Regions from separate parts of the Homo sapiens genome. Here region 2 is linked to region 1. A link means that fine-mapping ties the variant in region 1 to the expression of a gene that starts in the linked region. Tissue or cell type: testis. Region 1 holds a variant in brackets; the other region holds the start of a gene. All regions are shown on one strand. Distances are from middle to middle.

Region 1 (2,756 bases):
TGTTTTAAGAGATAGGATTTCTCTGTTGCCCAGGCTGGAGTGCAGTGATGCCATCATAGCTCACTTGCAGCTTCAAACACCTGGGTTCAATCCATCTTCCAGCCTCAGCTTCCTAAGTAACTGGGATTACAGGCATGTGCTATAGCACCTGGCGAATTTTTAAAAATTTTTTGTAGAGACAGGGTCTTGCTGTGTTGCCCAGTCTGGTCTCAAATTTCTGCCCTCAAGCAATCGTCCCGCCTTGGCCTCCCAAAATGCTTGGATTACAGGCATGAGCCACCATGCCCGGCCTTTTGTTGTGTGTTTAAATAGAACCTCAACATTTAGAAAAGGCCCCAACCTTTGTCCTTTACTTAAATGGTCATTCTGTAATAAGATTTTGGAAAGAGACCTTCCCAGCAGAAAAGCAACACGTTGCTTTTTCTCTAGGTAGGCAGGATGGATCCTTTTTATCCTCTCGTTGAAGAAGATAAACTAAGCTATTATGAGTCTCAAGGGATTAGAAAGGATTTAGCCTGGTAAAGAAGACAGGAGAGAGGTCTAGGGAGAGGGAATAGCTCATGCAGAGGCCTGGAGGGCGGACGTGTGTGCAAGCATGTGTGTTTAGTTCATTGGTAGTGATTTGGTGCCCTGTGTCCAGTTGGATCTTTCAAGCTAATCAAACTTATCCTGAGCCACAAGGCCAAGGACAGTCATTAGGCTTTGCATCTTCATTGGAATGACCTTTTGGGGATGACCTTGCTACGATAGCTGAGATGGGGCTGGCCTTTGGGGCATCTGTTATCCTACAGTGAGATGAGCTTTTTTTTTTTTTTTTAAAGCCCGAGTCTCGCTCTGTCGCTCAGGCTGGAGTGCAGTGGCATAATCTTGGCTCACTGCAACCTCTGCCTCCCAGGTTCAAGCAATTCTCCTGCCTCAGCCTCCTGAATAGCTGGGATTACAGGCGTGTACCACCACACCAATTTTTGTATTTTTAGTAGAGACAGGGTTTCTCCATGTTGGCCAGGCTGGACTCGGACTCCTGACCTCAAGTGATCTGCCCGCCTCTGCCTCGCAAAGTGCTGGGATTACAGGCATGAGCCACCACACTTGGCCATGAGATGAGCTTTATCTGTGCAAAGTCTCTCTGTGGTCAGCTGGGGCTGGGGCCGTGGGTCAGTTCTGAAGGGCATTTCCATGAGGGTTTGAGGCCTGAGATTGTGTCCTGGGCCCTCTGGCCCCAGTGGTGAGCCGCATGCTCATGTGGCAGGAAGGATCTGGTTCCTCTGATAACCTGCTTAGGCTGACCCCTCTTTTTCCTGGAGGACGGCTGTCAGAGATGGGGCTGGCTTTCTATTTGAATTTCAGAGGCAGACTCGTGCAGATGGGTGCGGGCAGAGGAAGGGAGCCCATGGTCTTCCTGAACACTCTGAGAATTCCCAGAGCAGGCTGCATGCAACTTCCTGAGGTTCTCCCAAAGCCAGACAGGGAGAACAACTTGTGTTCAGGAGAAGGGTACCATATAATTTAACAAACTGTTACTTAGATAGGTGCCTTGGCCAGAGAAAAACGTCCTTGGGCCCTGGCTCAGGGAAC[A/C]CTGTGGCTCTGCCTGTTCTTGGTGTAACTCCTGATCCTTGTTACCGTCATTACCTGACCCCTGCCGCAGACCTTCTTCCCTGTCTCATCTGTTCCATCCCTCCTGCAGGAAACAAACATGGGAGGCATCCTGCACTCCTCACTCCTTCTCCATATCCACTCAGTTTCCAGGTAACATTGATTTTACCTGATTTCATGTAGAGTATTGCAACTCTTGCTCTTCCTCCAATTGAGCCCTGCCTCCCTCTGATCTCCCCTGCCTGAGTGATGTAAAGTGCAAGCCTGGTCCTGCTGTTCCGCTGCTGACCGCCTTCCTTCTGTGGCTTGCCCTTGTAAGTCCAGACTCCCCAGTGGGCCCTCGGCCCTTGACTCCTCTTCCATCAAGCTGGGACTTGCACTCTGAGCTCCCATCCCCTCTGTCTGGGCACTTTCCCAGGCTGTTTTCCACCTCTGCCTGGAAAGCCCCTCCCCTTTCCTCCTGGCCCACTGCCGCTTTCAGGGCCTTCTGCCCCTCGTTTATGACAGTCTCCCACTAGTCAGTGCTCCCCGGAGACAGGCATTGTATATTTGCCCCTCCCATGCCCAGCATAGTGCCCGTGCACACTATGTGTTTGTGAACGCGATTGGAGCCATCACTAGTAAAGGTGAGGCTGTCCCAGTGAGAGCATCGGAGGGAGGGTCTTGGAGGAGGCACGTGAGACAGGTGCAGGTGGCTCTGCCTTGGATACCCAAGCGAGGCCACATCTGTTTTGTGCCTCCTGAACTGGGGTGGCTTCACTGGAGTTTGCTGCCTGGGTCAGTGTCCAGGCAGGTCCCATTCCAGAAATTCTGATCACCTGGGATTGAGGTGAAGATGAGGCAGCTTCAGCTTCAGCCCCTAGTGATCAGACTTGTCTTCAAAGGACCAAGCTGTGATCTGACAGGGGCAGGGTGGTGCACTGTCAGGCCTGCCCATGGCAGTGGTTTCATTCAGATTCCCAACCCCTTTGGGCCATGACTATTGGGATCTCTCCCCAGAGTAGTGTGGTAGGGACATGGTAGTGAAACTTCAGGTGGTCCACAGATCCCCAGGAGGGTCAGCTCCAGATGCCAGATTAAGACTTCTGATATAAAGTTTAGCTCCCTTGGGGGGCTCTCTTCCTCCCTTTCCCTTTGAAAGGGAAAAAAAGAGAATGTGGAAT
Region 2 (2,756 bases), 23 kb before region 1:
GCCTGTAATCCCAGCAGGAGGCAGGAGAATCACTTGAACCTGGGAGGCGGAGGTTGCAGTGAGCTGAGATTGCACCACTGCACTCCAACCTGGGCGACAGATTGGGACTCCATCTCAAACAAAAACAAAAACACAAAAACTAAAACAAAATAGAGGTATGTGCAAGATGCTGGAAAACCACGCAATAGAGTGTTTGAGGAACAGTCTTTGGTCTTGAATTTATTATAGGAGAATGTGGCAGCCACAGAAGCTGCTTGGATCTGCCTTTATAAAATGACTGAACATGGTGGGAGCATTGGAACCCGGATACTTCTGCCCAAGGAGACTTCTCATTTTTTTTGTCCTGGAATTCCCTGATGGGTTGACCTGTTTGTCAGATCTGAGTCTCCTTGCCCAACCCTGCTTATTTCCCCTTCTCTGTCACGGGCATTACCCCTAGCTTTATCTCAGCATCTCATCTGCTTTCTGGAGGACCTGATCTGACCCAGAAGGCCTGGATTCTTGAGGGACAAGGGGAACTCGAAGCTGTACTTGCAGAGCAGTTTTATATAAAATCCACAAACTGCCATCACCCATCCCAACGGGTAGGGAAGTACCTCTAGGAGGATTAATTTAGAGAATAGCTATATAGTGTCTGTCTATTCAGACACTCAATAAATGGTAGTTGTTATTATTACCCAATTTCCGAGTGTGTGGGAGCACTGGGTGTGACTTTCCTGTAGTTTTCCCTTTAATGTCTAATCTGGGGACCCCTCTGCCCCATGCAGTTTTGGAAAAGTGTCTAGGGAGGGTGGCTGTGTGGAAGTAATATTAAGAGAGATGGAACCACACAGGTATTGGGTTTGGGCCAGAAAGGGTGAACTGCGAGCTGCACTGCCATTGATCCAGAGGACGACCCCAGGAAAGGTCAGCCACGGGCTCCGGGCCTTGCCTGGTACTGATTTATGGTCCTCCTGGGTGGTGACCTACAGGTGACAGACGGACAGGTGGGCAAAACTGACTGTCCAGTGGACAGGCATGTGATGACCCAGTGGCTGACGAATGCACAGACACATGGCTGACTGTGGACGGATTTGTCATCCGCAGGGTCAGGCAAGTGACTTTGAGAGGGACAGAAAGATGGATGGGAGTGGCTGGAGGCCTGGGAGCCGCCCACCTGCCCGCTTAGCCGCGAGGGGGCGCCACCGCCCCGCCCAGCGACGCCCACTGCCCGGGCTCTTGGCGGGGGCGGGACCAGCGTGCGCAGGGGGCGGGGCCAGCAAGCTCGCGGGGGTGTCCGGGGGCGGGGCGCGCGTGCACAGGGGGCGGCCGGGGGCGGGGCGCGCGGCGGGCGCGGGCGCGGGCGCGCGCGGCGGCGGCGCGTTCCGTTCCGGGCCGAGGCTCGCGGCGGAAAAGTTGCGGGGCATAGACGAGCGGCCCCGGGACGGGCAGCTAGCGCGACCCTGAGCCGGCGCCCGTGGTCCGGCCATGGACGACCTCGGTGAGTGAGCGGGAGGCCGAGGGAGGAGGAGGCGAGAGGCGCGCAGCTTGGGGCCAGGAGGGCGCCAGCGAGCGGCAGGGGCCGCGGGATCCCACCCTCGGCGGCCCCGGCCTCAGCTCCTGTCCCTGCCGGCCGGGGCTCCGCGGGGCTGGGATCCCTAACCGGGCCTTAGTCTCGGGCCAGGCCGGCCCCGGCACCGACCGCACAGCAGCGACCCCCCGTCTGGGACGGCTTCACCTCTGGACCCCCGACCTCGGGGACCCATCACCATCTCCCAGAAGGGCCCCAGGGACCAGCCCGCCCCTCAGGGACCCACCCCGTCCGCTGCAGGGACGAGACTTCCTGCGGCAGACCACCTCGTCAGCTACGGGACCCTCACCTCGCAGACCTCTCCCCACCCCCACCTCACAGATCGACCGCCCAACTCGGGGAGCAGCTGCCCGATCTCATGGGCTGCTCCCTCATTTCCTCGACCTGCTCCCCGTCCCTCCAGGGCCGCCCCCCACTTCACAGACTAGCACCCCCCTTCAGGGATAACCCCTCGGAGCCCACCCCTTTCATTTCACAAGTCAGATGCAAAAGCTAGAGATGAGCGTGTGATGACCACACCCCCATTTCAAAGACAAGTTTCCCAGTCTGCCTGCTCTTCTGACCCCCCACTTCAAATCTGGTCACCCCGTTTCAAGGACCCATCACTCATTTTCTCTCACTGACCTCCCCGCTCTGTGGACCAGCCCCTCAATTCACAGACCAGTCCGTCTACCATGGTATCTAAGTCTAGAACGGTAATTTGGGAGTCCTGATTCTCTCCCCACCCCTAGATTCTGGTGAAATGCCAGGGGAATGAGGTGGAAGGTGGGCCCCAAGGTATGACCATCCCTGAACGTGTCCTGGCTAGCAGAGTCCCCTCCACCCTCTCTGCGTCAGGCCCTGCTGGAAGCCACGCAGGTGAAAGAGGACAGGATGCCCAGAACAGAGTTTTACTGTTTTCCTGTTATTGGAGCCCCAAGGCTACTCTTTTCAGTCCAGTCTTGATCTGGTGTTAGGGGAAAGAAAGTATCTCCTGGAAGCCGACTCTAAACCCAAGGGGGTTGGTGCCAGGGTTCTAGGAATGCCTTGGGTGGCGTGAACGCAGGAGTGGGAGGATTCGCTGTCTCTCCCTCCCCTTCACGCCTGTAGCTGGAGGGCCCTGAGCTTGGGAGGTGAGGAGGGGGGCAACGTTTCTTCTCTGCAGGAGCCTTGTCTTTCCTCTCTGGACTGTGGGTGGCTTGTGTGA

What was found. PIP is the estimated chance that this variant, and not a neighbour inherited with it, causes the effect.
Region 2: it holds the start of PXN, and the variant in region 1 is fine-mapped to the expression of PXN in testis (GTEx, PIP above 0.99).

What each region holds. Positions count from the first base shown.
Region 1 is chr12:120,240,943-120,243,698 of GRCh38, reverse strand. The region is part of intron 1 of PXN (paxillin); the gene reads left to right. Among named protein-coding and RNA genes, the nearest start is that of PXN, 23 kb to the left of the region's middle. The variant A/C (reference allele first, on the strand shown) is at 1,576.
Region 2 is chr12:120,264,341-120,267,096 of GRCh38, reverse strand. It overlaps PXN (paxillin), which reads left to right and starts at 1,367. Exons shown (of 15, transcript NM_001385981.1): 1 at 1,367-1,480. The coding sequence starts at 1,468. RefSeq lists silencers at 1,060-1,339, 1,500-1,649.